Linked DNA regions of Homo sapiens: all the other regions are linked to region 1. Evidence: fine-mapped expression QTL. A gene starts in region 1. Each other region holds a variant in brackets. All regions are shown on one strand. Distances are between the middles of the regions.

Region 1 (8,108 bases):
CCACCAGAGGTTGGAAATCCAGAAGCTTTCTCGGCCTCCTTTGCTGCTGCAGTTGATTGTGTTACCCAGTCAATTCTGACCCTTGAGAGGTCTACTGGGGGCACTTCTGGGAAGGCTTCTGTTTTCTTAATACCAAGGGACAAACACAGCTAACATGGCTTTTAGTCTCTCTCTTTCTGCCTTGAACTCAGACTCGATTTCTGAAGTGATGGCAGCTATGTGAGACCATGACGTACTAAGCATTAGAATAAAAGCCAAAACACTAACGATACTAGAATGCAAAGCTACAAAGAGGCTGGTCTCTAATGACACAGTTGCGTAGCTGACCCAATGCTAGAAATTACCTCTAGACTTTCTTTTACTTGAGAAAATAAACCCTCTTTATTTAAACCGTTAGCCAAATGCAATCTCAATCTCTCTTCTTTTGATAGTAACATCTCAATTTACCCTCGAGGAATCACTCTTCCCCGGCAGTCACTCCTGTGGTTTGGGAGAGGCTGATCCCATCCCTCTAGCTGTGGAGTGGGTACTTGACCTGAACCAGTCCAAGTCTTTTTTTTGAGACAGGGTCTTGCTCTGTTACACAGGTTGGAGTGCAGTGGTGTGATCATAGCTCATCACAGCCTCGAACTCTGGGACTTGAGCAATGTTGGCCTCCCAAAGTGCTGGGATTACAGGCATGAGCCACCACACCTGGCCCTTTTTACCTTTCTAAGCATCAGGTTTCTTTTATATCTTTTTTTTGTTTGTGTGAGACAGGGTTTTACTCTGTTACCCAGACCAGAGTGCAGTGGTGCGATCTCGGCTCACTGCAACCTCTGCCTCCCTGACTCAAACAATCCTCCTACCTCACCCTCCTCCCTAACAAATGGAGCCACAGACATGTGCCATCATGCCTAATTTTTTATATTTTTGGTAGAGACGGGGTTTCACCATATTGCCCAGGCTGGTCTTGAACTCCTGTGCTCAAGCAGTCCTGCCGCCTTGGCCTCCCAAAGTGCTGGGATTACAGGCGTGAGCCACTGTGCCCATCCCTAAGCATCAGGTTTCTTAACGATAAGAAGGAGTAAAGGTACTAACCTCAAGAAGTTGTTAGAAGAATTAATACATGTCTGTACTAAGCCCTACAGAAACATACTAACTAGTCACTGATATTATTTCTTTATAATTTTTTTTGAGATGAAGTTTCACTCTTGTCACCCAGGCTGGAGTGCAATGGTGCAATCTCGGCTCACTGCAACCTCCGCCTCCCGGGTTCAGGCAATTCTCCTGCCTCAGCCTCTCCAGTAGCTGGGATAACAGACATGTGCCACTATGCTGGGCTAATTTTTTGTATTTTAATAGAGATGGAGTTTCACCATATTGGCCAGGCTGGTCTCAAACCCCTGACCTCAGGTGATCTGCCTGCCTCGGCCTTCCAAAGTGCTGGGATTACAGGTGTGAGCCACCATGCTCAGCCTGATACCCTTTTATTATCATTGAACATGGCCACTAGAATGTAAGCCTCTGAAAACAGGAGATGTCAAAGTCTCTGTATCCCCCATAGAGCTATGCAAGCCTATCACAATTCTCCGTACATAACAGGTCCTCTATAAATGTTTGCTAAATAAATGAATCTGCATAAGTTGTAGTTCGTTTTTCCCCTATCTAGCTAGGCAACCACAGCCGGACGCTTCAGAATCATGAGATGCAAATAAAAGGCCTAGGAGAGGAATTCATTTTTCACCCACAGTCACGCTGCCAAAAGAGGAAGGATGTTGGTTATGTAACAGTGGAAAGGAAAAGAAACAGACGAGATACTTACCAGCAAGGTGTCCAGTGCATCAATTAGAGTCAGAGAAAAACTGCAAAAGGACAGAAATCCCAGCCGCTTAGTAAGAAAATCAAATACCAGATATTATGGCTGCCCTAGATCTGATCCCCCTAAAACTAAATGAGGCAAAGTAATGCCTCTGCCTGTCCCACTTACAGTCACAACAGAGAAACCACAGTGAAAATCGCAGGTATTCTCTGACCCACTTAATGCACCTGGGAGGGTTGGCTGATGTAGCTCAATTGTAATTAAATACATCACCTATAGTCTGGCATTCTCCTCTACCATTGGGAGGCAGTATAAGATTGCAGCTTAAAGCACAGGCCTTTCACCAATTTTCACCTCTAGGAATTTAATTCACAGTGAACAGCTGTTTGAGAGTGTTCATGGCAGTATTGCTTAGAACAGCAAGAGGCTGGAAAGAACCCAACTGTCCACCCATTAATGGGTGATTAAACTGTGTTATAAACAGTGCAAAACTATGAGTTATCAAAAAGATTGTTATCAAGACTTCTATGTGCTGATGGAAAGACATTCGAATTGTTTTTAATGAAAAAGTCAGGGTGGTTTAGTATGTTTCCATCTGTTTCAAAAAGACATGCTGACAGAAAGCAGACAGCAATTGTTAGGGTCAGTGGTGGTGCAGGGATGAACTATAAAGGGCCACAAGGGAACTTTTTAAAGTGACAGAAGTGTTTCATATCTTGACTGTGATGGTGGTCACTTCAAACGAGTGTAGGCTGGGCACAGTGGCTCATGCCTGTAATCCGCCAGCACTTTGGGAGGCCTAGGTGGGTGGATCACCTGAGGTCAGGAGTTCAAGACCAGCCTGGCCAAATGACAAAACCCCGTCTCCACAAAAAAATTAGCCGGGTGTGGTGGTGGGCTCCTGTAATCCCAACTACTTGGGAGGCTGAGGCAGGAGAATCGCTTGAAGCCAGGAGGCGGAGTTTGAAGTGAGCCAAGATCACGCCATTGCACTCCAGCCTGGGTAACAAGAGCGAAACTCCATCTCAAAAAAAAAAAAAAAAAAAAAAGAGTGTATTTTATTATATGTAAATTATGCCTTTAAGAAGTTCATTTTAAAAAGATACACATACACACATCTATATATATAATGGTATAAACCAAGAATATTTCTGGACAGATACAAAGGAAAGTTAATAGTTGGAATTCTAGGGTATGGGAGATATTTATTGTATATAATCTTTTACCACTTGAATTTGCCATTTGTATTTACTTTGTTTCAACTTAAAAAAATAAAAACCATCACAAGTTTTGAGTTTAATTTCTCCCGACCTTAGCACATTCGTGTGTAAAACAGGGATAATGGCACCTAACTCGTAGGGGTATTAAGATACTGAGCTGAGATCTGAATGACAAGCAGCAGCCAGTGATGGGAGGAAAATGGGGAGTGTATTTCAGGCACGGGGCACACCAACTACAAAGACTTAAGTTTTAGGAGTGTCACACTCCTTCCTGGATCTGAATGCCCACCTACATAATGAAAGGGGTGGGTTTTCTAATTCTTGGAGCCCTTCCACGGTATCTCGTTACTCCAGAAATTGCCTATGTCCCCACAGCTGATGCCTGTTACTGCTGGGGCTGAGCTCAGCGATCCAGCCCACCCGGCTAATCCAGGACTTTTTTTTTCACTGCGAGAGGCTAAGTGGATCCTGGAGGTGATAGTAAGAATTGCGGGGAGCGCGGCTCTAGCTCAGCTGGGAGCTTTCTGGTGCCGGTGAGGAGACCATGAAGCCACCAGCCCCAGCTGACCCGCCCGCCGAGGCCCAGAGAGTCAGACCCTGGCCGCCCCTTGCCCCTCCGCTCGCACTACCTGCCCCAGGTGTCGTGCCCGTCACAGGTGAGAGGTCGCAGCTCATCGAAGGGAAAGGCATTCTCCAGGTAGCTGTCGTAGGCGTGGTAGAACATGGCCTTGACTCGCTCCCTGGGTGGGGGACGAGAAATCAGGCATGGGGCAAGAACACAAAAACAAGCGGGGGAAGAACAAGATACAGGGCGGAAAGTGGGAATCACTAGCTGATTTCTCCCTGGGACCTAGCGGCTGTGTCGGAGCAAGTCGGGGTCTGGGATGGACGGAAAGGGAAAGGACCGGGTTCACGCTTCCCATTCCCCAACTGCGAAAGGGCGGGTCACAGTTCACCTGTAGTGGGCGGGATCTGGCGCGGAGCCGTCGGGACCTGGCGCACCATGGTGCTGAGGCAGCAGCGCGCACAGGAGGCCGAGCGGGATGAGCAGCCGGAAAGGCATAGAGCTCGTGTCCTCTCAGCGCCCCCGCAGCAGCAGCAGCCACTGCAACCAGTTCATCCTGGGAGCTGCTGCGGGTTCTTCCGGGAATCCGCGCCACTGCGCCTGCGCGCTGAGAAATCAGCCTCTCACTTCCGGACTACAAGCCCCTGAATGCAATGGGCAGCGAAACGCGGCCGAAGAGCAACTTCGGATGTACGGTTTCGGCAACACTGATCAACGTGTCTTAAAGTCAGTGGCTGTTGTTACTACTGTTATTAATTAATGTTTTAATAATAACAGCTAGCATGTATTGAGCACTTATTGTGTACTAGTACTGTACGGAGCATTTAAAATGCATTCTCTCATTCATTTTTTTCAACAACCTTATTAAGTATGAAGGCAGGGTAAGCATGAGAAATGTTCAGCCTTTACCATTATTACCTAGCAGGACAAGCCGCAGACAAAACTCCTCAGACACCGGGTTAAAGAAGGAAGGAGCTTTATTCGGCCGGGAGCGTCAGCTGACTCACTTCTCAAAAACGGAGCTCCCCGAGTGAGCAATTCCTGTCCCTTTTAAGAGCTTACAACTCTAAGGGGGTCCGCGTGAGAGGGTCGTGATTGATTGAGCAAGCAGGGGGTACGTGACTGATTACCGGTGCACCGGTAATCAGAACGGAACAGAACAGGACAGGGATTTTCACAATGCTTTTCCATACAATGTCTGGAATCTATAGATAATATAACCGGTTAGGTCAGGAGGGGTCGATCTTTAATTACCAGGCCTGGAATGCATCGCCGGGCTGTCTGACTACTGATTTCACTTCTGTCTTTCTTTTAACTCCTACATTTTCTTTGAGGCAGAAATTGGGCATAAGACAATATGAGGGGTGGTCTGCTCCCTTATTTAGGGATATTGAGTTTCCCAAACCAGTTACTTGTTGATTGTATAAGACACAACTCACATTTATTTGTCCAAAACTTCCACTCTTTTTTTTTTAAAACCTCTTGCATTTTCCGATGCTGTCACTCTTGAGGTTTCCTGAAATCCCGTCAGTTCTAGGAATTCATGACACTTCTCTCCTCCCAATTTGGGATGTGGTTACACAATCATGGTCCCTTCAGTCTCCATCTCAAACCGGAAGCTTTACCCCTGTCAGCCCTGTAGAATGTCTTGGGTAAGAATGAATACCCTGGTTGGGCGCGGTGGCTCACGCCTGTAATCCCAACACTTTGGGAGGTTGAGGTGCGTGGATCACCTGAGGTTAAGAGATAGAGACCAACCTGGCCAACATGGTGAAACCCCGTCTTTACTAAAAATACAAAAATTAGCCAGGGGTGGTGGCGGGTGCCTGTAAATCCCGGCTACTCGGAAGGCTGAGGCCGGAGAATCGCTTGAAACCGGAAGGCGGAGGTTGCAGTGAGCGAGGATCGCGCCACTCCACTCCAGCCTGGGCAAAACAGCAAAACTCCATATCAAAAAAAAAAAAAAAAAAAAAAAAAAAAAGACAAATGACTACCCTGGGGCACTATAGCTTTCAGGAGGTTTGTGATCCATTTCTCCATTCCCCTTATTCCCAAGTTTCTAAAATTTGGTCAGCACCTTAGACCACAGCAACACCCATGACTTTGGTCAGTGTGACATGCGGTAGAACCAACACTGGATTTGAAGTCAGATCTAGGATCCAGTTAATTACAACTCTGTCACTCATCTATAACCTGTGTATGTGACCCTCTCCTTCTCTGGGGCTAGCATCCTTGTCTATAAATAATGAGGAGTTTGAACAAATGGATCTTTAAGATCCTTTTCGGTCGAGCTTTCTATGATTCTAGGATTGGCTATCTCTTATTTGCTGAAAAAGTCAGATGGAAGTGATAGCTCAGTTTGTTGAGCCAGAGTGCAGCCAGGCCTCCCAAAGTGCTGGGATTACAGGCATAAGCCACTGTACCCAGCCTGGGATGTTTTTAGAAACTCTTCTTGGCCGGGTGCAGTGGCTCACGCCTGTAATCCCAGCACTTTGGGAGGCCAAGGCGGGCGGATCACGAGGTCAGGAGTTCAAGACCAACCTGGCCAATATGGTGAAACCCTGTCTCTACTAAAAATACAAAAATTGGCCGGGAGTGGTGGCAGACGCCTGTAGTCCCAGCTACTCAGGAGGCTGAGGCAGGAGAATCGCTTGAACCCGGGAGGTGGAGGTTGTAGTGAGCCAAGATCAAGATCAGGCCACTGCACTCCAGCCTGGGAGACAGAGCGATACTCTGTCTCAAAAAAAAAAAAAAAAAAGAAACTCTTCTTGGGGCTTCCAAATGGAAGGGAAAGGAGATGACAGTAAGCTGAGACCTGGATAACAACACAGGAGCACTGTATTCGTTTCCTGTGATTCCTGCAACAAATTACCACAAACCAAGTGGCTTAAAGCAACAGAAATTTATTCTCTCGCAGTTTGGGAGGTCAGGAGCCTGAAATCAATTTCACTGGGCTAAAATTAAGTTATTGACAGGGCCACACCCACTCCAAAGGCTCTAAGGGATAATCCGTTCCTTGCCTCTCTAGATTCTCCTGACTGCTGGCATTCCTTGGCTTATGGTTGTATCACTCCAGTATCTGCCCGTGCCTTCATATCGCCTTCTCTGTGGATGTGTCACATCTCCTTCTGCTTTTCTCTTATAAGGACATTTATAATTGCATTTAGGACCCCCCCCGCGCCCCCCCCAACCCAGATAATACAGGATAAACTCCCATTCCAAGATTTTTAACTTAATCACATCTAGGGGGAAAAAAAAAAAAAAACACCATTTTTCCAAATAGAGAAACATTTACAGTTTCCAGAGATTAGGACCTGGACTTTAGGTGGCTGTTTCCAGCCTAGCGCAGGGACTAAATATTTTTCAGACCTGGGCCTTTCCCTGTGACGAAATTCACCTTCTCCATATTATAAATCCTATAGCTTATCTTTTTGTCTCCCATTCAAAATTCTAGTGTGGATAAAACTTTTGCAGGAAGGGTGGGTTCAGGTTGCCTGGATTTGGTAACGATAGGTCTCTCTTTATGAGCAAGATTGAAACACTCATGATTTTCCTTTATATTCTTTTTCTAGCTTGATGTCATTCTCCACACTGTCACTGAACAAATAAAACCATGACTTACGTTTTCACAATTCATGTGACTATATGTTCTCTAATGAGAATAAAAAAATTGTTTTACCCTCTGGAAAGTATCAGGACTCTTCTTTCTCTCACTCTGTGTTTATGATATTGGATTCTAGAAGGTTATGACCCACCAGTGAAGTGTCACACTTGAGCATTTACTTGTGAAGAGACTCAGGGTAAGTTGCCTACCTCTCTGAGACTCAATTTCCTATTGTAAAATACAGAAATTGATGAGGCCATAAAGGAATTCTGGGAATTAAATGGGATAATGAAAGTGAACATTCTCAGCACAGTGACTGGTATATATTAAATTCTTGATACATATTAATTCTCTTCCCTGCCTCCCCAACTCTTCTTTTTTTTTTAAGGCAGGGCAGTTGTTTCCATTTACTGAGCATCTGCCCCGAGTCATCCAAGGTGTTATAGGCAATAGTTCCTACCCTCAAAAGTTTGAGGCACAGTGCTGAGCATATAACTAAGATTCCAAAATAATCAAGTCATAGTCCTTTCCCTTGAAGTGCTTGCAATTTTGTTAGAAGGGGAAGATGTCAATTGGAGAATACTTGGAATCATAGGGTGTTCAAGTCTTCCCTGTGGGTGAATAGAGTTTGGAGGGAGCTCAGATCACATCAGTATCTGAGGCCAATGTCCTCGGACTCTGTGTTCAGTGGAACAAGACTTGGACTGGTTGTCGGAAACCCTTGGTCTTGTTACTTGTTTATCCACTATCTCTGTGTGATCTCGGGCAAGTCATTTTCCCTTTTGGGGACTCAGTTTCCATATCTGGAAGATGAAAGAGTGAGACTATCTCTCAGCACAAGGAAAATATTAACAGATCCATACAGTTATTGCAAAAAATCAGAAAACAGAATTCAACACACATCGACTGCACAAATTT
Region 2 (8,108 bases), 46 kb before region 1:
TATGTGTATATATACATATACATATATACACATATGTACATATATGTGTATATATACATATACATATATACACACGTGTATATATACATATACATATATACACACGTGTGTATATACATATACATATATACACACGTGTGTATATACATATACATATGTACACACGTGTGTATATATACATATGTACACACGTGTGTATATATACATATGTACACACGTGTGTATATATACATATGTACACACGTGTGTATATATACATATGTACACACGTGTGTATATATACATATGTACACACGTGTGTATATATACATATGTACACACGTGTGTATATATACATATACACACGTGTGTATATATACATATACACACGTGTGTATATATACATATACACACGTGTGTATATATACATATACACACGTGTGTATATATACATATATACACGTGTGCCTATATACATATATACATGTGTGCCTATATACATATATACATATATGTGTATATATACATATATACATATGTGTATATATACATACACATATATACATATACGTACATATGTGTATATATACATATACATACATATATATGTGTATATATACATATATACACATACATATATGTATATATACATATATGTATATATACAGCTCTTTCCATATATGTATCTCTCTCTATACTTCATTTATACGTAGAGAGGGTTTGTGTTAGTTTTGCTAAACATTTTTTTTTTTTTAGACAGGGTCTCGCTCTGTTGCCCAGGCTGGAGTGCAGTGGCACGATCATAGCTCACTGTAGCCTTGGGCTCCTGGGCTCAAGGGATCCTCCCATCTCAGCCTCTCAAAGTGTTGGGATTACAGATGTGAGCCACTGCACCCATCCTGCTAAGCCATTTTTTGCTAAACCATTTGAAAGTAAATTGTAGATATTATGACACTTCACCTGCATATTTTAGAATGTATCTCCTAAGATCAAGGACATGCTCCTAAAAACTATGATACCATCACACCCAAGAAATTTAATATTGATACAATTTATCTTTTTTTAAATTTATTTATTTAAGACAGGGTTTCACTCTTTTTGCCCAGGCTGGAGTGCAATGGCACAATCTCAGCTCACCACAACCTCTGCCTCCTGGGTTCAAGCTATTGTTCTACCTCAGCCTCCCAAGTAGCTGGGATTACAGGCATGCGCCACCACACCTGGCTAATTTTGTATTTTCAGTAGAGATGGGGTTTCTCCATGTTGGTCAGGCTGGTCTCAAACTCCTGACCTCAGGTGATCCGCCTGCTTTGGCCTCCCAAAGTGCTGGGATTACAGGCATGAACCACCATGCCCAGGCTTTTTTTCTTTTTTGACATGGAGTCTTGCTTTGTAGCCCAGGCTGGAACACAGTGGTGTGATCTCGGCTTACCACAACCTCTGCCTCCCAGGTTCAAGCGATTCTCTTGCCTCAGCCTCACGAGTAGCTGAGATTACAGGCACCCACCACCACACCCAGCTGACTTTTGTATTTTTAGTAGAGATGGGGTTTCACCATGTTGGCCAGGCTGGTCTCGAACTCCTGACCTCAAGTGATCTGCCCACCTTGGCCTCTCAAACTGCTGGGATTACAGGCATGAGCCACCATGCCTGGCCATTATTTATCTTATAATCCATATTCAAATATCTGCAATTACCCCCCAAATGTCCCTTACAGTCTCTTCCCCCCAGTCCAGAGTTCAGTAAAGGATCATGCATACATTTGAAAGCTATGTCTTGTCACTGTCTTTTAATCTAGAAGAGTCCCTCATCTCTTTTGTCCTTTCGGGATATTGACAGTTTTGGGGTCCGGGCCAGTTGTACTGAATACCCTGACATCTGGATCTGCTTTATTGTTTTCTCATGATTTGGTTAGGATTAAGCTTTTATGGCTAGAATATTAAACAGGTGATGGTGTGTCTTTCCCATTGCTTCATATCAGAAAGAAATAATGTAAATGTGTCCCATTATTGATGATGCTAAGTTTGATCTGTTGGATCAAACTTAATATGTCTTCATTGGAAACATACATTTTGGGGTTAATAAGTAATCTGTGGCCTTCAAGACTACGAGACTGTCTTGTTCTCCACCCACCTTTCACCCAGTAATGTTTGTGTTTGTTTGTTTTGAGATGAAGTCTCGCTCTGTTGCCCAGGCTGGAGTGCAGTGGCGCAATCTCGGCTCACTGCAACCTTCTGTTCTTCTTCTCTTGCCTCAGCCTCCCTCCCGAGTAGCTGGGACTACAGGCACGAGCCACTTCACATTGCAAGTTTTGCTTTTTTTTTTTTTTTTTTTTTTAGTAGAGATGGGGTTTCACCATTTTGGCCAGGCTGGTCTGGAACTCCCAACCTCAGGTGATCCACCCGCCTTGGCTTCCGAAAGTACTGGGATTACAGGCGTGAGCCACCGCGCCCAGCCCCCACCCAGTAGTTTTTTTTGTTTTGTTTTGGGTTTTTTTTGTATTTTTAGTAGAGACGGGGTTTCACCATGTTAGCCAGGATGGTCTCGATCTCCTGACCTCGTGATCCACCCACCTTGGCCTCCCAAAGTGCTAGGATTACAGGTGTGAGCCACCACACCTGGCCAACCCAGTAGTTTTTATCATCCCTTGATGATCCCTCCCTGGATTATCATGCTGGTGGTTGCAAAATTGTAACTTTCTAATTCTACCATTGCTTCCTCTTTTATTAGGTAATATTCCCCCCCAAAAGGAGCTCCCGCCCTTTTTCTGGGGTATCACTATGGACTCATAAACTTTTTTTTATTTTATGTGTTATAATCCATTACTATGGTTATTCTATTTTCCCTTGGTTTTATTAGGGTATCATTTACATAAAATGAAATGCATAGATATTAGGTAATATGTAATCTGATGAATTTTGACATATGTATATACTTGTGTAACCAACACCTGAATTTAACCAATACTCCCAATGGATATAGAAATTTCCATTACTCCAGAAAGTTCTCATGCACTTGTTACTTACTAACTCCAAAGGAGAAAAATGTACCTCTCCACTGTTCTAATTTTATCATCATAGATTAATTTTGACTGTTCCATAACTTCCTATAAATGGAACCATCTAATATATAGTCTTTTGTGTTTAGCTTTTTTCACTAAGGATGATGTTTTCTAGATTCATCCATGTTGATCTGCATGTCAGTGGTTCATTCCTTTTTACTGCTGGGAAGTGTACCGTCTCAGGAAATGATAGTCCAGGGCCGGGTGCAGTGCCTCACACCTAGAATTCCAGCACTTTGGAAAGCTGAGGTACAAGAATCGCTTGAAACCAGGAGTCTCTACAAAAAATTTTAAAATGAGCTGGGCTTGGTGGCACACACTTGTAGTTCTAGCTACTTGGGAGGCTGAGGTGAGAGGACTGCTTGAGCCCAGGAGTTGGGGTCTGTAGTGAGCTATGATCCCACCACTGCACTCCAACCTGGGTGACAGTGTGAGACCCTGTCTCTGAAAAAATAAAAAAGAAGATGATACCCTAAGATAAAGGCTTCAGAAGCAGCTCTCTCTGACCGTCTCCTGCCCTTCTGTCTCTGGCCTCTTATTCTCCCCTGAGGCTAGTCATAGAAACTAGAATCCCTCTTCCCCAAGGCAGGGTTTAGAAACCAGAAACTGGCAGGGCGCAGTGGCTCACTCCTGTAATCCCAGCACTTTGGGAGGTCGATGCAGGCGGATCACCTGAGGTTAGGAGTTCGAGACCAGCCTGGCCAACATGGTGAAACCCCATCTCTACTAAAAATACAAAATTAGCCAGGTGTGGTGGTACATGCCTGTAATCCCAGATACTCTGGAGACTGAGGCAGGAGAATCGCTTGAATGTGGGAGGCGGAGGTTGCAGTGAGCCAAGATTGTGACACTGCACTCCAGCCTGGGCACTAGAGCAAAACTCCATCTCAAAAAAAAAAAAAAAAAAAAAAAGAAACCAGAAACCTTCCTCCTTCCCCTTGCCAGCGGTGAAACCAAACCTAAAAATATTACTCTAACTCCCTCCCCCTAAACCACCACACCTTTCTGTGCATAAACTGGCCATCAAGAAATTATCCAACCTACCTGGTTTGACTGTAGGTCATAAGACCCCCATTCCAGAGAGGGTCCTGCTGCACACCCGGAAGGAAGGACAAGAACAAAACTCTGTCTCAAAAAAAAAGAAAAAAAATTCTGTGTGTGTGTATTTCTCATTCTTTTTGATGCTCAAATTGTCCCAAATTTGACCATTGGTAGTCCTCTCAAATTAATTCCTGTGTC[A/G]TCTTTGGGACAATCTTAATTTTAAATGGGCCCTGTGGGACTTAAACTTGTCCAACACTATGATCGGTTCTGAGTTCAGAAAATAGTCTCTCTAAATTTTTGTTCCAATCTCCACAGATGTAGATTCTTACCTCATTCCCAAAGCTAGTCACTCCTTAATCTACAACAGCCATTCTTCAGCAACACTGAAGACTCTTATGACATAAAGTTGAAACTTCTTTCCCCAAATGATGCATGCATCCGACACACAGGCAGACACACACGTGCATGCGCAGACACACAGGCAGACACACACGTGTGCGTGCGGACACACAGGCAGACACACGTGCATGCACACACACACACATTTTGCCAGTGGTTCTTGGATTGTTTACAGTGATCTCTAAATCACTGAACGCCTACTATGTATTAGAGATTGTGCTAGATGCAAAGAAATGCAAAGGGAAGAAAATAAGAAAATTAACATTTAAAAAAGACCTAGGCCCCATGTGGTGGCTCACACGTGAAATCCCAGCATTTTGGGAGGCCAAGGCAGGAGGGTCACATGAGCCCAGGAGTTGGACACAAGCCTGGGCAACATAGTGAGACCTCATCTTTACAAATATATATATATTTTTTAATTAGCCTGGCATGGTGGTGCATGCCTGTGGTCCCAGCTAGTTGGGAGGCTGAGGTGGGAGAACTGCTTGAGCCCTGGGGGCCAAGGCTGCAGTGAGCAGAGATTGCACAGTCCAGCCTGGGCAACAGAACGAGACCCCGTCTCAAAAAGAAAAAGAAAATACCTACCATGTATGTTCCGGACATTGTACTAAGTGTTTGATACATGTCATCTTAACAAAGATGCATAAAATAGAGATTTCATAAACTAACAAATTATCACAGCACACTAGAATACATACTATTGTAAATAAAGGCATGTAGTCACTGAATTACATTCATTCACCAGATATTTCTTGAAAACTTCCTATGTACAAGCTCTGCCCCAGGCGTGGGGGATACATCTGTGAATAAGACAAATGCAGCCTGTGCCTTCTAGGGCTCAAGTCTAGTGGAGGAAGGCAGACACATAAGCAATTACCATCAGAGCTCCAACCCACACAAACATTTTTAAAAACATATTATTGTAGAGACAGGTTCTCACTATGTTGCCCAGGCTTGTCTCAAACTCCTGGCCTCCAGCAATCCCCTCACCTCTGCCTTTCAAAACATTGGGATTGCAGGCGTGAGCCACTGCATCTAACCCAAAAATATGTTTCAAAAAGAAAAACAAAATCTAAAACCCACTGCCTCTGAATCTGTACTATATTCTTTGGAAGCTCCTCACAGGTGACAAATTAGCATTGTCTTATATACAACCCAAAGCCCTCTGAGCAGAGCTTGATGAATAAGTGGATAATTAATATCTTTTTTTTTTTTGAGACAGAATCTCACTCTGTCGCCAGGCTGGAGTGCAGTGGCATGATCTCAGCTCGCTGCAACCTCCAACTCCCTGGTTCAAGCGATTCTCCTGCCTCAGCTTCCCGAGTAGCTGGGATTACAGGCGTGTGCCACCATGCCATGCCCAGCTAATTTTTGTATTTTTGGTAGAGACAGGGTTTCACCATGTTGGTCAGGATCACAAGCTCCTGACCTTGTGATCCGCAGGTGCAGATAGAAAAGAAATCCCAGATTGAGTGTTGTGCTGTAATCCTAGAAAACAATCGATCAAATCAGAACAGACTCCATGAATAAAAAGAAGAGATTCCAACCAGAAATTAATGTCAGAAATTTGAAAAGGGAATATCATTTCAGATTCTTCAGCACCAAAAGATCATAAGAAGACATGATGAATAACTTTATGCCTATGTATTTGAAAATTTAAGTGGAACAGAAATATTTCTAGAAAAAAGTCTTACCTAAATGGACACAAAACATAATAGAAAATTGGAATCATCCTATAACTATTAAAGACATTTCATCTCTAATTTAAAAGGTTCCCACAAAGAAAACTCCAATCCCTAATGCCTTTGAAATCTACCACACTTTTAAGGAAGAAATAATGCCAACATCACATAATTTCTTCCAAAGGCCAGGAAAAAAGGTCACCAACCGACATGAAAGCAACATAACATTGACACCAACATAGGAGATAAGGTGCAAAAATATCTCTAATTTCATTTCATTCAGTTCAAACCGTGATACAGTTTGCCTGTGTCCCCACCCGAATCTCATTTTGAATTGTAGTTCCCATAATCCCCACATGTTGTGGGAGGGACCGGGTGGGAGGTAATTGAATCATGCGGGCAGTTACCCCCATGCTATTCTGATCATGAGTTAGTTCTCACAAAATCTGATGATTTTAGAAGGGGCTTTTCCCCCCATTCGCGCTTCACTTCTTGCTGCTGCCAGGTGAAGAAGACCTTGTTTGCTTCCCCTTCCACCATGATCATAAGTTTCCTGAGGCTTCCCCAGCTATGCGGAACTGTGAGTCAATTAAACCTCTTTCCTTTATCAATTACCCAGTTTTGAGTATGTCTTTATTGGCAGCGTGAGATTGGATTAATACAAACTGCTTTCATTAATAAAATTGCATCAATTTGTTGCAGCAATGTTGGGAACATCTAGTACCCTTGTTCTCAGTCTTGAGCTTGCATTAGAATCACCTGGAGGGGTTGGCTTTGTTAAACCAGATTGGGGGCCCATCTGTGGTCAGGGATGGGGCCCAAGAGTTTTAAATACAACAAGATCCTTGGTAATGCTGTTGCCTCTGCACCAGGGACCACTTTTGACAATCACTGACCCAGTGGCACATACTATTTTGAAATCTTGCTTGCCATAGAAGTAATGTTATTTGGAATGCTTGGACAGGCTCAGTATGTTGGAACAACTTCTAATTTAATTCTCTAAGGATGTAAAAAAAAAAATCTTGGTTAGATTGGCCAACATTGATATGATTGGCCAATTTCAATATGCTAAAGTAAATGATGTGGTCAGCTGTAATCCCTGAAAATTTGTTTTCAAGAAGTTGATTATCACTGTTTTTCCCCCAACATATATATGAATTTTAGCAGGATCCCTTTGTTTTCCTAAGATTTACAGCATATAAAAGAGTATTCCAAATAGCATTGCTTTCAGATTCTTCTAACAATTTTATAATAACTGTATTATATTTTCATTCATATTTGCTACTCTCATACAATGTCTTTATATTTGTCTGGACTAATCTGTATTGGCCAAAGTTACAATTGTCAATTCTCTGAATGCTTTTAATCCAGTTTTGTGAGAGAAGATTAACCAAACAAGAAGACCCTCCTTAAAATGTTCTTACCACTCATGTAAGATATAAGCTAAGTGTTGTGCAACTTTCAATTTGACTTTCTCTGGTTGGATTACAAAATCTATACGAGATTGTAACAGCATAATAAGCATTGTTTCCAACATTCCGCAACAGTATAGATTCAAGGAGAAACTCTATTATTGCTAAGGTATGTTTTTATGGCTTGCTACACCATAAAAACTATACACACCAAAATACATGCCAGAGAATAAATGTTTTTTTCAGGAACCATGTGAGCAATTTTTTTCTTTTGGCACATAATATGCAACCCAATACAATGATAATAAGGCTTTCTCACTGACAGTCACAACATGAATCATAAAATTTGCCTATCACATTATATATGTTTTTCTTTCTTTGGAAATATTCGAGAGACTGACTAATTCAACATGTCATGTTTCCAAGCATCTTTTAAGTTTTGATGGTTTTAAGTTCTCATTTGCAAGAACATCATTATAATGCATTGGTGTACATGTCATTTTGTTGGTTTTACACATTTCATAAAATAATACA
Region 3 (8,108 bases), 110 kb before region 1:
TAGCCAGGATAGTCTCGATCTCCTGACCTCGTGATCCGCCCGCCTCAGCCTCCCAAAGTGCTGGGATTACAGGTGTGAGCCAACGCGCCCAGCCCTTTGATCATATTTTTAATGGCTGCTGTTAAATCTGGTATCTGGACCCTTTCACAGGAAATTTCTGTTGCCTGCTTTTTCTTGTGTATAGGTTACACTTCCTGTTTTTTGTGTGTATGTCTCAATTTTTGTTAAAAACTGGACATTTTAGGCTGGGTGTGGTAGCTCACGCCTGTAATCCTAGCACTTTGGGAGGCCAAGGTGGGTGGATTGCCTGAGCTCAGGAGTTCAATACCAGCAACTAGGTAAAATCCTTTCTCTACTAAAATACAAAAAATTAGCCGGGTGTGGTGGCATGCACCTGTAACCCCAGCTACTCGGGAGGCTGAGAGAGAACTGCTTGAACATGGGAGACAGAGGTTGCAGTGAGCCGAGATTGTGCCACTGCCCTCCAACCTGGGCGACAAGAGACTCCATCTCAAAAAAGGACATTTTAAGTAATATACTGTAGCAACTCTGGATACTGATTCCCCCTCCTTCAGGGTTTGTTGTTGTTATTTGCTTATTTATTAGTTTAGTGACTTGGTTAGACTATTTTCGTAAAGTCTCCTTCCCCAAAGACTGGTGAAGATTTTCATGTTGTGCCTCAGAGAGTGCAACCTTGGGCATGTACAGAGTCTCCCTGGGATGACATTGAGCCAGGCTGTCTTTGACTAGCTCTTTCCATGATCTCTCTGTTAAGCTTTCTACCTCTTCTGGTATCACATCCAGCTGTTAGGCTCTACTAACTGCTGACTGAATTCTCGACTGTTTTTGATAATGCCCTGGAGTATACACTGCTCCAAAGTCTAATTCAATTAAATTCAGGAAGGGGTAATTTTTGAAATTGAGCTTTGTTCTGACCTTGGGAGAGTTCTTCTCAGCTGTCTCCTTCCCTGGTTCTCTGGTGAACTAGCTGGCCTGTAGATCACCCTGTTCTTAATTAAGAAGAGGGTACCTGGCCAGGCACAGTGGCTCATGCCTATAAACCTGGCACTCTGGGAGGCCAAGGAGGGTGGATCACTTGAGGCCAGGAGTTTGAGACCAGCCTGACCAACATGGCAAAACCCGTCTCTATTCAAAAAAGAGAAAATATAAAAAATAAAAGAGTAAAGGCCGGGCGCGGTGGCTCACGCCTGTAATCCCAGCACTTTGGGAGGCCGAGGCGGGTGGATCATGAGGTCAGGAGATCGAGACCATCCTGGCTAACAAGGTGAAACCCCGTCTCTACTAAAAATACAAAAAATTAGCCGGGCGCGGTGGCGGGCGCCTGTAGTCCCAGCTACTCGGGAGGCTGAGGCAGGAGAATGGCGTGAACCCGGGAAGCGGAGCTTGCAGTGAGCCGAGATTGCGCCACTGCAGTCCGCAGTCCGACCTGGGCGACAGAGCGAGACTCCGTCTCAAAAAAAAAAAAAAAAAAAAAAAAAAAGAGTAAAAAAAAAGAAGAGGTACCTCTTTTTATTTGCTTACCATCAAAATCTCCTCAGGCATGAACTTCCCTGGACTCTGTTCTTATTAACTGCCTCTCTCTGTGGGCAAATTCTCAGAGCAGGGTCAGTAGCCTCTAGTCTTCCGGGCTTGCCTCTCCCAGTGTAAAACCTCTGTACATGAGCAAGCTAGGGCAAAGGTGATCAGAGCCATAGAATTCTTGGCCTCAAGTATGTGGGATAGAGCTTCCACACCGTGAGTACAGTATGGAGCTGGGTGGAGGAAGGAAGCCTCTGACCTCTTTGCCATACTCACCGAGAACTTAGTCTCTTCAATTTGGAGCTGGAGGGAAGAAGAAAAGCTGATGGCCCCCCACTCCCAATGAGAAACCTATTCCTTGTTTGGGAGCTGAGAATTCCTGGGTTTGTATATTCTGAACCTGCTGGCCAGAGTCAAATGCTTTAAGGCTGGGCACCTAACCAAAGATGGGCCAGAGTTCTTTACCAGGAAGCTGGAGCTGAGACTGGGAGTCTTCTTATTTAATAGGCAGTCTTCTGCCTAGTCCCATCAAGGGGACCAGGAAAAGGTAGGGTACAGTGAGAGAGAAGACTAAGAAACACTGTAGAAAGAAAAAGAGACGAGGAGAGAAGTTTCTAGGTTCCTAAGAATGCTCTGGTTACTGGTTCTTGTTAGTCCCTGAGACACAGCTGTCTCAGGTCTGCAACAAAGCCCTTCTCCCTGAAATCAGGTCCACTTTGGGGAGTTCAATGAAGTTTCTGTAACAAGCTGTCAAAAGAGTCTTAATAGTCATGGTCTAGAATTGCCTTGAGGACAATTCTACTCTGAGCAAATCTCAAATTAATCCTTCTTGGAAAGAAGAGCAAGAATGGTCCCAGGCGCCCAAGGAAAAGCTCCCGATCACTCAGGGGACCCATCCTTCCATACCTTGATTGTGCTCTGACTCCTCATTGGCCACTCGCATCAGGGCATCTAGCACCAAAGCATTGTCTAGCCATGTGTACCACTCTTCCAACTCCTGAAGGAAGCTGGCTGTGCCCGTTGACTCTGACACCTTTCGAGTCGCCAGTTTGCAAAGCCGCTCAACAAAGCCAGGAATGCTGAGAAGGGCCGCTGCCAGGGAAAGAACAAGCGAGGAAATTTTCAAAATAGAGACCAGCAAAACTACCCCTAAAGCCCTAACAAACAATCTGCATGATAGGAATAATTCTTACTCTGATAGTAGCTAAAGCTACTCTTTTAAAATGAATGTCAAACCAAGGTAAATAGTAATTATGTTACAGGCATAAGCTCAGTTTTTAGCAGGTACAGGGAAACAGGCTTTTTATCTACTGGGAATATAAATTAGAATAATCTTTATGCCTTAAATGTGTGTGTCTTTGAGCCAAGAGGTCAATTTCTGGGAATTTACCATAACGAAATAACCAGTCATATTACACGAGAATATCTGTATAAGGAGGTTCACTGATGTGGTTTCTGTAACAGCAAAAAGGTGAAGGTAACTAAATGTTCATCAACAGCTGATTAATTAAATACAATGACACATTTATACAATGGAATACTGCATAGACACTAAGAATGATGACACATACATCTTTATATAGTGACTCAAAACAGCTGTTTACTTGTTAGAGAGTAAATTATTAAACAATATGAATTTAATTTTCTTCAAAAATTTAAATATTTGCTTCTTCAAAATACA[C/A]AAGGAATGAAAGCATATATACCAAGGAATTTACTGTGGCTGTTCCTAAGCAGGAGAGAATACAAACAATTCTCTTAAAATTACTCATCTATAGTTTCTAATTTTCCTGTAACATTTACTAGCAGGATGAAAGATAAACATTTTTTTAAGGTAAAGAAAAAAACTGAATAATCACCCAATTTTTCTTTCCACCAATCTCATTTTATTCACAATGAGTGAGGTGGAAATTCTGATCGGCATATTAGAACATCATAAACTTTGGAGGCAGGGAGATCCAGATTCAAATCCTGACTCCATCATTTAACCTTCTTTAAAATGAGACTAATGCCTGATCATGTTTGCCTGTATATGCATTAAGTCTCCCTGGAAGGACAGAAAAGAAGCCAAGAGCAGTGGCTGCCACAGTAAACAGCCATAAGATGGAAACAGCCAAAATGTCCGTCAAGTGGAAAAGGGGATTTAGGTCACTGAGAGTAACAGTGGAACTGAAACTTTTCAATAAATACCTTTTTGAATCCGCAGATTTTTTGGAACCATGTGAATGTTACACCTAATTAAAAATTAATAAATAACTAGATATTTCAGGATATCAAGGGATTACTATTAATTTTTGATACAGTGGCAGTTACGTTTCTTAAAAGTCGTTATCATGTAGAAACACTGAAATATATGCAGGTGAAATTATACGATGTCTGGGGTTTACTTCAAAATAACCCAAGGTGAAGTAGGGTATAGTGAATGGGAGTAGAGATAAAGTAAGACAAGCTGGCCAGGCACGGTGGCTCATGCCTGTAATCCTAGCACTTTGGGAGGCCAAGGTGGGTGGATCACTTGAAGCTAGGAGTTTAAGACCAGCCTGGTCAACATGGCGAACTCCATCTCTACCAATAATACAAAAATTAGCCAGGCGTGGTATCGTGCGCCTGTAGTCCCAGCTACTCAGGAGGCTGAGGCATGAGAATTGCTTGAACCTGGGATGCAGAGGTTGCAGTGAGCTGAGACTGCACCACTGTACTCCAGCCTGGGCAAGAGTGATACTCTGTCTCAACGCGTGCGCACACAAACACACACACACACACACACCCCTCCCATAATTAGTGAGTGGCTATAAGATGATGTTTGACCTTAGTTATAAAATAAAACTACATTGAGGTTCCTCAAAAAGTTGGCCAGGCACGGTGGCTCACGCCTGTAATCCCAGCACTTTGGGAGGCCGAGGCGGGTGGATCACAAGGTCAGGAGATCGAGACCATCCTGGCTAACACGGTGAAACCCCATCTCTACTAAGAAGTACAAAAAATTAGCTGGGCGCGGTGGCAGGCGCCTGTAGTCCCAGCTACTTGGGAGGCTAAGGCAGGAGAATGGCGTGAACCCAGGAGGCAGAGCTTGCAGTGAGCGGAGATCGCGCCACTGCACTCCGGCCTGGGCGAAAGAGCGAGACTCTGTCTCAAAAAAAAAAAAAAAAAAAAAAAGTCAAACATAAAATTACCATATGACCCAGCAATTTCACTCCTACATATATACCCAAAAGAATTGAAAACAGGTGCACACACAAATATGTGTACACACATGTTCATAGCAGCACTATTCCCAACAGCCAAAAGATGAAAATATCCCAAATGTCCATTAACTGAAGGGATAAACAAACTGTGGTATCTACATGATGAGTATTATTCAGCCATATAAAGGAATGAAGTACTGACATGCTACAACATTAATGAACCACAAAAACATTATGCCAAGTGAAAGAAACCAGATTCAGAAGGCCACATGCTATATGATTCCATTTACAGTTATGCACTGCATTAACGCTGTTGCGGTCAACAACGACCACACAGAAGACGGTGGTGCCATCAGATTATAATACTGTATTTTTACTATACCTTTTTTCTATGTTTAGATACACAAATACTTACCATTATGGTACAACTGCCTACTGTATTTAGTACAGAAACATGCTGTACAGGTTTGCAGCCTAAGTGTATCATGGGCTATACCAGCTAGGTTTGTGCAAGTACACTCTATGACATTCACACAATGACAAAATCACCTCACTGCATTTCTCAGAAGGATAGAGACTGCTAAGTGACAACATGACTGTATATGAAGTAATCTGAATAGGTAAATCCACAGAGAAAAAAGCAGAATGGTGGTTGCCAGCAGTTGGGGAGAAGGGGTAATGGGAAGAAGCTGCTTAATGTGTACGGCGTTTCCTTTTGGGGTGATGAAAACGTGCAACTAGATAGAGGTGGTAGCTGCACAACACTGTAAATGTACTAAATGCCGCTGAGTTGTTCACTTTAAGACGGCTAATTTTATGTTACGTGACTTCCATCTCCATAAAATAATTACACAGAAATAGATTTTTGTTTGAGACACCATTTTTTTTTTTAACATATCAGCTTGGCAAATATAAAAAAGTTTGATAATGCTCTGTACTGGGAAAGGCTACAGACAACACGGTGGGGAAGATGAACAAGTAATTTCTTTGGAGGGTTAATTTGTCAACACTTACCAATTTCCATTAATGGGGGACTAATTAAATTACAGTATGCCTGTATAATAGAATATTATATAATTACAAAAAGGAATCATATAATTCTATATATACTAGAGTGTAATTTTTGGCAAGATAAGTTTAATAAAAAGAGAGCAGCACTTATTTTATATTACCTATTTACATTACCATCTGTACAAACAGGAGTCAATCTCTCTCTGTCCCTCCCTCCTTCCCCCGTCCCATGATTGGGCATGTATAGAATATTTTTCGAAGGACGTTTAAGAAACTGGTAAAAAGTTACCACAGGGAGGGGAACAAACTCTCTGCTGTACTTTTTGTATCATTTAAAAAAAATTTTAGGTGTGTATTATTTTTTCTAAAAACAAATCAGTAGGCGGGGCATGGTGGCCCATGCCTGTAATCCCAGCACTTTGGGAGGCCGAGGTGGGTGGATCACCTGAGTTTGGGAGTTCAAGACCAGCCTGGCCAATATGGCAAAACCGATGTCTACTAAAAATACAAAAAAATTAGTCGGGCCTGGTGGCGCATGCCTGTAGTCCCAGCTACTTCGCAGACTGAGGCACGAGAATCGCTTGAACCAGAAAGTGGTGGTTGCAGTAAGCCAAGATTGTGCCACTACACTCCAGCCTGGGCAACATAGCCAGACTGTGTCTCAAAATAAAACAAAGCAAAAAAAACAAAAAAGAAATAAAAAGAATTTGTATTCTACATGAAAATCTTCACATAGCTGGATTTTTACTCTTATACTTCTGTTCTCAGCAAAAATAGCTCCTGCTGCTTGACCTGCTCCTCTCAGGACAGCATGTAGGAGCTAGTCTTCCCCATTCCTGCACACTCAACACACTCCTCCAGATGGGAAGTGCCCGGTACTCAGGGTTCTAAGTCTGACTTCCCACCTGAGATTCTTGAGCTGTTGTGAGTCACTCACCTCTTGAAAAGCTAATAAAAGCTAAGACCTTCTCCCCAGAAAAAAATTCACTGGACCAATCATACCTAGCAACTCATACACAATCTCATGGGCTGACATCCCAGCATATCCAGTCCTTGTAATTCTCACAGCTTTATCAGTAGCTACCACACCTGGCTGGTTAATGTTAAACTGACAACTAAATCACTCACAACCCCTGAGAATTTCTGCAGAAGCAGGCCTCTTCTCTCTTCTCACTGTTGAAACATCAGTATTCCCCCCATACTCCTGTAGTTTCCCCTCCTGCTTTCCAGCTTCATGTGCTGCATAATTCAGCCCCTCTCAGCTAAGTGTCACTTATAAATTGACAATTATCTAGCCTATAGCTTCATTTACATCTCTGCTAAGAATCTTGAAAGACGTTACTTTCCCCCAGAAGGAAACCAGCTGTTCTCTTCTAAATCGACAGAAGAACAACTGGTAGTTCTGAGAATCTCAAAAAGGACTCAAAAAATAATTATTTATTTTAAAATGAATCTCAAAAAATAATGACTTACGCTATCTTCCTGGGGCTCAGATAATTTACATTAGATAATTACATGTAAATTATCTGAGCCCCAGGAAGATAGTGTAAATCATTATTTTTGCTAGACAAGAAAATGACCTCACAGCCACAGTTTATTAAAAACGAAACGAAAACTTTTTGGCAACATCCTACATATTTCAGCTTTCCATACAGTTATGGACTGTGTCCCCACCCCCCGCGCCCCCACAAATTCATACGTTGAAGCTCTAGCCCTAAATATGACTGCGTTTTGAAACAGGCCCTTTAGGGAATGCGGTGGTGTGATGGTTAATTTTAGCTGTCAACTTGACTGGACTATGGGATGCCTACATGGCTGGCACAGCACTGTTTCTGGGTGTGTCTGTGAAGGTGATTCCAGAAGAGATTGGTGTATGAGTGTGTGAACTAAGGGAAAATCTGCCCTCAATGTGGGCAGGCACCATCCAATTGGTGGGGGAGCAGTGGGAGGCGATGGAGGAAAACAAAAAGGGATTCTCCCCCTTCTGGAGTGGGAAGTTTTTCTCCTACTGCTCTTGGATATCAGACTCCAGGATCTTTGGCTTTTGGTCTCTGAGACTTGCACCAGCAGTTTCTGGGGTCCTCCAGCCGGGGAGCTACACCATTAGCTTTCCTGGTTCTAAGTTTTCCGGACTTGGACTGAGCCATGCTAATGGCTTCTCAGGTTCTCCAGCTTGCAGACGGCTTATCTTTTATTTTATTTATTTATTTTTGGAGACGGAGTTTCACTCGTTGCCCAGGCTGGAGTGCAATGGCACAATCTCAGCTCACTGCAACCTCTGCCTCCTGGGTTCAAGCAATTCTCCTGCTTCAGCCTCCCAGGTTGTTGGGATTACAGGCGTGTCACCATGCCCAGCTAATTTTTGTCGCAGATGGC
Region 4 (8,108 bases), 140 kb before region 1:
TTCCAATCGACCTTCCCTGCTGTGTGTCTGCCGGGGCCTCTCACCTGGGTCAGCGTCTGCACGTGGATGATGTTGATGAGGCGGAAGAGGAAGGACATCTGCGTGGGCACCTGGGATATGTAGGCGAGCAGGCGGCATTCAGACAGTACCTCGGCAACTGTGGAGGGAGGCAGGGGTGCAGCAGGTCAGGCTTAGGCCCAGTGGCTGGGTCGCCCAGGCCTTTCGTGGAGCCCCGCTTGGGTCCTGACTCTGAAGCTAGGAGCTCATCATCAAAACAGCTTCAACGAAAGCTGACTGTGGCAGAAAGAAGGACCTCCAGCTGTCCTGCTACCAGGCAAAGCCATGTTCTCAGAGTGCCCAGGAGCACCCCACCTCATCCTCCAGAACCAAGCTCAGGGCAGCTCTCCCTCAGCCCTCCCCAGACTGGCTCCAGACCCGTGCCCTCCATATCACACACAGAAGAGTTCCCTCCACAGGAAGATGGATCCATGACGCTGCATTAAGAAAAACAACGCAAAAGTTCCACTCCTTCTGCAGAGGTCCTAGCGCAACTGGTTTTCCACACCAGCTCTCAGGTGAGTCCGGCCCAGTGCTGAGACCACAAGGCACAGGTTCTGCTCCGTCCACTAGTGTCGGAGCAACTGCTTCCCGCACAACTGGGAGGCAGGGCAATAACCGAAGGTACCAAAATCTGTGTGGCTGTTCCCCTGAAACAGACCCTCTGGGGCAGAAAAAGGAAGCAAACGGCTAAATTACCAACAACCGGGATACTTCTTGCTATCAATGACAGTGACCGTGACAAGGAACAAGTGCCTGACTTTTTGGGGGTGTGGGGGGGTCACAAACCCTCAGGAGAATCTGCTGGATGCCACAAGCCCTCTCCTAGGAAAAAAAGGAAACGCGTGCGCATACACATGGAAGTGCGTTAGCAAGTCCAGGAGGGTTCAGATGCCTGCTGCACCACAGGGCACCTGCGATGCCACGCACAGCACACTGAGGACGAGGGGGCCAACTCATCGTGCCAGGCAATACCAGCCCAGAAGAGGAAGGTCTTTTTCTGGTTTTCTTTGCATCTTGCTAGCAACAATGGATTTTCACCTTATTAAAGTGTTGAACAAGGCAGCAAAGCCAATTGCCCTGGAAGCCGCCACCTTGAGGCCGGCCACGTGGGCATCTGGTGCAGCTCCCTCAGTCATTCTTGTCTCCCTGCTGGAGACAGGGTGTCTGATGCCAGCATTCTTACCCTGCATGACTTGCCTTGACAGCCTGCCTTTCATGTACCTTTCATATCCACCTGGTTTTCAAATCGGTCCAGGGACAGAGTGACACAGCGCACCAGCATGTTGGAGTCCACCAGGGAGCTGTTGATCTGCTTCAGGAATACCTGGAACTATACAGAAACCAAGCTCACAGCAGGCAGTGGGCTGCTGGCCAGGTATGGCCATGGCCCGGGGGGATAGTCACTACAAGGGGCATCAGCGACCTCTACCAGCCCCACTGCTTCAGATAGGAAGACAGAGGCTCAGATAAGCTGAGGGACCTCCCCTCACCACCCAGGTACTAAGAGGCACTCCCCGGAATTCAGCACAGATCCGACACTCTCTCCAGTGGTTTTACGCTCAAGGGTGCTGGATTCCTTTAATTTTTACTTTTAATTTTACTTCAGCTAGCCTGAGCTGGGTTTCTGTCACACACACTCGGTGAGCCTAACACACCAGGCCCAGTCCCTCCCTACAGCGGCTCCCACCGTGGCACCCACCATGCTGCGTCACGGCAGGCGCACAAGCCACCCATTCCCACCCTCACTCCCTACCCACAAGCAGCCCCGGTTTTCATCCCTGCATTCCCAGGGTCTAGCACAAAGCCAGACAGAGCAGGTTCCAATGAATGTTTGCCAAAGACTGCCCAGACTCCCCCGTCGTCTCTAACGTAAAACCTGTGCCTAAAGCCTGGCAGACCAGGACTCCAGGTGAACTTCTGGACAACCCAGCACACTCCACAGAGCCCTGGGTTAACTTTACCTTTGCATCGGTGTTGATATATTTATTGAATCTCTTGAATGCATCAACGTTGAACTTCATCAGCTCCCCCAGGAGGTCAAAGTAACTCTGGAGCACATCCCTTGACTTACACTCGCTGTCCACAATGCAGTAAAGGATGTGCTGGGTGAGGAGGGACAGGGTGAAGGTGTCAACGTGGCTGCCCCCACCAGGGCCTGGCATGGAGCTCAGACCATGCATTGGCTTTGAGCAAGCATCCTGGGGATGGAACTGGCAACACTGTCTAGATTCTTGTCTGAGGATGCTGGTGGCTCCAAGGACAGGACCAGGCCTGACAGACCTCACCAGGAGGTGGAGCAGACTGGGAATGCAGCACAATCTCTCCCCTGCCCAGGGCGTACAGCTGAAGCCTGTGACCTGCTCTGTGGTCACCAAGATGGCCGGGGTGCTCAGCTCCTAGGTGAGGGGAGCTGTCATCACCAGGTCTAAAACACAGGCCACTGCCTAAGCACTGAGGTCATTCAAGTAAATGAAGGACAGAATTTAAAAGCAAAGGACACATTTTGACCCCATGGTTTGTCTTTGTGTTTATGAACGAAATTGTTTAAATAGAGTTTACACCAAAATACTGAGTTTTCATCAAGAGAATAAAGCCAATTTACTCCTTTATAAAGTTTTCTACATTTTCTTGAAGTTACATTGATTTGGATCAATTCTTTTCCACATGGATTTTATAATTCGTGGGTCAGTTTCTTGTCCATATGAAAAAATCTGAAAGACCAATTATAACTTTGGCCATTCTGCTCTAAGTTTTACTTTTTCTGAAGACCATTATTCAATAAAGGAAAATTAACTTTTAGTACAAAATATCTTCAGGGTCAAAATGCCTTGCTGGGTAACCAAACTGTCACCCTCCTGCATGGCCTGGCCACCCTCTAAACCTGTCACCCCGTAAGCACCCATGGGGAACCCACAGTTGGAAACCCAGGGCAAAATCTAAGGCAGCCTGCACAGGCATTTGGAAGTCACGAGATCTGCTCTGCTCCTGATGAACTGTTTGGGGCTCAGGACAGGACACAGCAACGCGTGGGCTGGGGGGAGACGGAACCCAAGACACTGGCTGCTCCAGATCATACCTCCAAGAGGCCTCGCTTCAGCAGGAACATCTGGTCTGCATAGGAGGTGGTCCCTCGGAGGAAACTCTCCACAGCCCGAGCTTGCCAAAACCTGCGACCCAAATACTGGCTCAGGTGGCTAAGGCTGCCCTCTTCCGGCCCATGTTCAGTTCTCCAAGGGGTTGGGAGATGTTTGTTGCCTTTTCATGTACTCAACATTTACTGAACATCTACCAAGCATCAGGCTTCATCCTGGGCCTGGGGACACAGCAGTGCCCCCATCCTCACAGAGAGCCAGCTCAGTGGAGAAGTCTTCTATCTGGGTCTGTCTGGAAGGGG[C/CTT]TGTGTCACAGAAAGGGTAACATCTGGGATCGAAGGGCTGGCTCCTGCGAGCCCCCGTGAAACATACTCTAGGCCTTGCCCTTTCACAAGAATGGGAGGACGTGCAATTGAGGGGCCAGGAATGTGTGTGGGAAGCGGACGAACACATGCAGACAGGCCACTGGGCTCACAGACGATGGGCTGGCCTAGGGAAGTAGTGGTTGATGCTGACCGAGGGACCCAGAGGGCACAGCGGGTATCCACGACAGGGAGTTTGGACAAGGCACTGAAGTGACAAAGGCCCATGTGGGCATGAAGCCTCCTGACAGCTCACGCCCGGCCCTGATGGAACTCTACCTGTCCACTGACTTCAAGACTCATCTTAGATGTATCTAAGGACCTCAGAGAAGGTCTCCCTGTATTCACCCAGCCCCCAGCCCTAGCAGCGGAAGAGGCTTTCCTTTGCTGCTATAGCTCCTGGGCCAACCCTGGCTCCATTCCTTCCCACACTGCATTGAAACAGCACAGCTCTAGGGAATTCATGGCAGGGCCCGTATCCTAGTTCTCTCCCACCCATAAGGCACCAGCACAGAACAGGTGCTTGGTGAATGCTCGGTCACTGTGGGCTGCAGAAGAAGCTCTCACATACCTGTCGAGTCAAAACTACACAAGATGGCAGTCAAACCACCTCTCCCCAACAGTAATTGTGCTTCAGGAGGCATGGACGCTGGTGACTAAAGGAGGTATTCCTAACCTCCTGAGAAACACCTGGCTCTGCAGCCCCGCAGAATCGGCAGGTACTTTTCCCCAGACTCACCTGAAAGACGACTCTGCTGGCTCCTTCTTCATGACCTGCAGCAGACGAGTTAATAAGCCCCTCTTCCCATCACACACCAAACTCCTGAAATAGAAGAGAGATATTGGTGACAGATCTGAGAGGCTGACAGGGGCCCTGGGGATGGGTCATTCTGCTGGCTTAGGCGGTGAAAAACCATGGGGACATTTCCAAGTCTGCAGGATGCCTTCCTGCTCCAACTGGGTCCAGAGCCCCGGAGACCCCTGCAGCCACAGAATTAAACTGCCAAGTGCATTCCCACCACATCTCAGGCCAGCTTTCCTTCCCAGGCCAGAAACATATCCAGAATCAGACATGGCTTAGAACTGCCAGAGGAGAGCTGTTTATACCAAAAGTGTGTTGAAACAGGTCATGCCAGTCTGCCAGATGGGGAAAGACTCTGCCAATAGGGTGAGGCCCAGCGTACTCCGTGCCTGAGGTTCACTTCCAGCTGGCCTTGGGCAAGTGTCCACAACTCCAAGCCTCAGCTTCCCAGTCTATGAAGCAAAGGCAGGAGATGAGGAAATGACTCTGGCCCCGTCATGGGGGAAGGAAGACGGCCAGGCACGCAGGGGTCTGGGCCCTTCAAACAGAGCAGCTCTGCTGTGATCCACTGCAGACATCAGGGCAGGACTGGGTACAATTTTATTTGAATGAAGAGTTCTGCTACCTTAGAAAAAAAAGATTGGGAGGCCAGGAGAGGTGGTTCACACCTGTAATCCCTGGACTTTGGGAGGCTCACTTGAGGCCAGGAGTTCGAGACCAGCCTGGGCAACATAGTGAGACCCCATCTCTACAAAAAAAAAGTAAAAACACTAGCTGGGAATGGTGGCGCACACCTGTAGTCCCAGCTACTCGGGCGGCTGAGGCAGGAGAATCACTTGAGCTCAGAAGTTTGTGGCTGCAGTGAGCTATAACACCACTGCTCTGCAGCCTGAGAGAAAGAGCAAGACCTTGTGTCTAAAAAACAAAACAAAACAAACAAACAAAAAAGGTTGGGAAATCATGGCTCTTGTTGGATAAAGTCCACTGTATTCTGACGCCTGTGAGACTAGCCCCCCACTGCCTGGCTCCAGGTGAGGCAAACCTAACCCAGGTAATGCAACCTAACACTTGGCAGCAGGTAAGAGGCTTCTGTCTGTCCTGCTTGGCTGCAGATGCCACCAGGCAAGAAAGGAGCACATAAGCAAAGGGGCTGAATGCACGAGACAAGGCGGTGGGGCAGTGCGGAGCACACATGACTTCTGGCAGGTGACCTCTCTGAGGCTCACCTCATCTGTCAAGTGCAGGTACTGATGGGGCTCCCCTCCTAGGGCTGCTGTGAGGCTCCAATGAGAAAATGCAGGTGACATGAATACAATGCCTGGCACACAGGAGCCCTCAGGACACTGTAGCTGCATGTGAGAGAGGACACGCGTGCATACCTGGATGTGCTCACCGGTGAGCCCCCGGGGAACGTGGGCAGCCGGGATGGGCTGAGGGAAAAGCTGCACCCCTGCACTCACCTGTCGGTGTTGAGGACAGCTTCCACCTCAGGGATGTTGGCCTTGAGAGAGATGGCACTGAGTTCATTCAGCTCCTGGTTGTTGAGTAACAAGTACTTGTTCCTGAAACAAAATGGGTTGGAGGAGGTAAAGGACAGGAACTGGGGCTGCTGGGTCAGCACCAGGCTAGTGTAGGGAGTCTCCTGCCCACTTCCTGTGGACAGAATCTGAGAAGCCACCAGGCACTTTCCTCTAGCACCTCTCACTCCAGCCAGCACCTGCAGGAGGGAACTCTGGGCTCTCAGGCAGTGGAATCTCTCCCTGGCCCCACCCCCATCCCCGACCCCTGCCTGCCACATTCATCGACAAGGCCCCTTCCCTCAGCAGCTCTGGGCCTTTCTCTTTGCCTACATTTCCACTTGTTTTCTCAAAGGCACCAACACCTCAACAGGTCCAATCACACTCAAGCCTGGCCCTGCTGCAGCAGTCCCACCAAGCACCACGGTCACACATCACACAGAGGCCTGGTTAACTGTGACACTTCCCCCGACTTGCCATCCAGGCCTGTCACTGCTGGGTCCTGTGTTCCCAGGACACCAGCTCCCTTTACTAAAAGGTATCCCACAGGAACTGAGTCATCACACGGTGCCAAAAGTGATCTTCAGAATCAGGACTCTGATCCTGTCACTCCCGGTGAAAACACTTCCACAGCTTCCCACTGCATTTAGAACAGACATTTCCTGACTTAGGAGGAGGTTATGTCCTGATAAACCCATCGTATTTGAAAATGCCGTTAAGTTGAAAACATATTGAGGCCGGGCGCGGTGGTTCACGTCTGTAATCCCAGCACTTTGGAAGGTCCAGGCGGGTGGATCACGAGGTCAGGAGTTCGAGACCAGCCTGGCCAACGTGGCGAAACCCCATCTCTACTAAAAATATAAAAAATTAGCTGGGCGTGGTGGCACACGCCTATAATCCTAGCTACTCAGGAGGCTGAGGTAGAATTGCTTGAACCCAGAAGGTGGAGGTTGCAGTGAGCCAAGATCATGCCACTGCACTCCAGCCTGGGCAATAGAGCAAGATTCCGTCTTGAAAAAAAGAAAAAGAAAGAAAACACATTTAATATATCTAACCCACTGAACCTCCTAGCTTAGCCTAGCCTACCTGGAATGTGCTCAGAACACTGACTTCAGCCTACAGTTGGCCATAATCACTGGCAACACGGCAGGCACAGCACAGAGTACTGGTTGTCTACCTTGGTGATCGTGTAGCTGGTCACCATTTTTCTTGAAATACATTCTGAGCTGCAGCTGCAGCTCAGTGCCCAGCATTGCAAGAGTATTGAACTGTTTATCATGAGCCCAGGAAAAGATCAAAATTCAAAATTCTACTTCTGTACCATTGTGAAGTTGAAAAATTCTAAGTGGACCATCTGTATATAAAATCCAGGCCTGTGACTGTGACCCACAACACCCTGTGACTGTGACCCACAACGTCCTGTGCAGCCCAGCCCAGAGCCAAGCCCACATCACTCCCATCAGCTGGCCACAATGGTCTTCCCTCGTTCAGGGGCTTCTGGCTAGAACACACACCCTCTCACATGCCTGTTCACTCAATTCACTACAAGCTGACACTTCAGGTCTTGGCTGGCAAGCCACTTCTGCAGGGGAGAGTTCCTGAGTGTCCTCTGGCCAGTCCTGGACCCTGTCAAATGTCTCTCACAGACCCCGTTCCTCTCCTCCTGAATACCATCTCCACTTATCACTAATGCTCAACGGTGGAATCCTTGGATGAACAACTGTCTCTGTTTTCAGACTCTGCCCTTCATGAGAGCAGGGGCCATGGCTGTTTGCATTCATCCTGATATCCCACAGAGTACTCAGACTGAAGAGTCTGATGAAAGCCAGAGACTCACTTCCTCAGGGAAAACAGCACAGTTCCATAACATATGTGGTGCCATTTTTCAGAAGGTTAACATGCTTCCTGGAGCCCTTCTATGGCTTTCAGCCGGAAAACCTCTCACAGAGGATGGGTGCATATGATGGAGGTGCCCTGGGGCCACAGCTGTCTCCAGGCATGTTCTGTTAGCTCAAATGCAAGGTTTTTAAAATATTTAAACCAACATTTAAAATCAGGACCTTTCACATAAATCTTAATTTCTGCCTTTGCTTGGCAGAAAAAATCAGAAGTTATGCAACAGTGGGCCCAGTTTCCTGTGCACACGCAGCTGGCTGGAGCTGAGCTCACTGAAATTCTTGTTCACTAAGGTCCCCACATCACCTCCCCAATGCCAAGGTCAAGGGTCAGCTGCTAGTCACCCCCTTCCTGCACTGTTTTCCTTACAGCAGAGAGTAAT

Evidence for each region. PIP is the estimated chance that this variant, and not a neighbour inherited with it, causes the effect.
Region 2: its variant is the best candidate, but not a certain one, in a credible set for the expression of EDEM2 in whole blood (INTERVAL, PIP 0.54).
Region 3: its variant is the best candidate, but not a certain one, in a credible set for the expression of EDEM2 in whole blood (INTERVAL, PIP 0.67).
Region 4: its variant is the best candidate, but not a certain one, in a credible set for the expression of EDEM2 in left ventricle (GTEx, PIP 0.87).

Annotation. Positions count from the first base shown.
Region 1 is chr20:35,143,175-35,151,282 of GRCh38, forward strand. It overlaps EDEM2 (ER degradation enhancing alpha-mannosidase like protein 2), which reads right to left and starts at 4,162. Exons shown (of 11, transcript NM_018217.3): 1 at 3,978-4,162; 2 at 3,651-3,761; 3 at 1,805-1,844. The coding sequence starts at 4,084. It overlaps MMP24-AS1-EDEM2 (MMP24-AS1-EDEM2 readthrough), which reads right to left. Exons shown (of 15, transcript NM_001355008.2): 6 at 3,651-3,761; 7 at 1,805-1,844. The coding sequence starts at 3,745. RefSeq lists enhancers at 3,344-3,947, 4,196-4,325.
Region 2 is chr20:35,097,246-35,105,353 of GRCh38, forward strand. No RefSeq gene overlaps it. Among named protein-coding and RNA genes, the nearest start is that of TRPC4AP, 8.5 kb to the left of the region's middle. RefSeq lists enhancers at 4,113-4,614, 4,615-5,114. The variant A/G (reference allele first, on the strand shown) is at 4,280.
Region 3 is chr20:35,032,678-35,040,785 of GRCh38, forward strand. It overlaps TRPC4AP (transient receptor potential cation channel subfamily C member 4 associated protein), which reads right to left. Exons shown (of 19, transcript NM_015638.3): 8 at 2,446-2,631. Among named protein-coding and RNA genes, the nearest start is that of MIR499B, 46 kb to the left of the region's middle. The variant C/A (reference allele first, on the strand shown) is at 3,221.
Region 4 is chr20:35,004,414-35,012,521 of GRCh38, forward strand. TRPC4AP (transient receptor potential cation channel subfamily C member 4 associated protein) reads right to left here. Exons shown (of 19, transcript NM_015638.3): 12 at 5,774-5,875; 13 at 4,251-4,334; 14 at 3,137-3,227; 15 at 2,022-2,162; 16 at 1,282-1,390; 17 at 45-157. Among named protein-coding and RNA genes, the nearest start is that of MIR499B, 18 kb to the left of the region's middle. The variant C/CTT (reference allele first, on the strand shown) is at 3,455.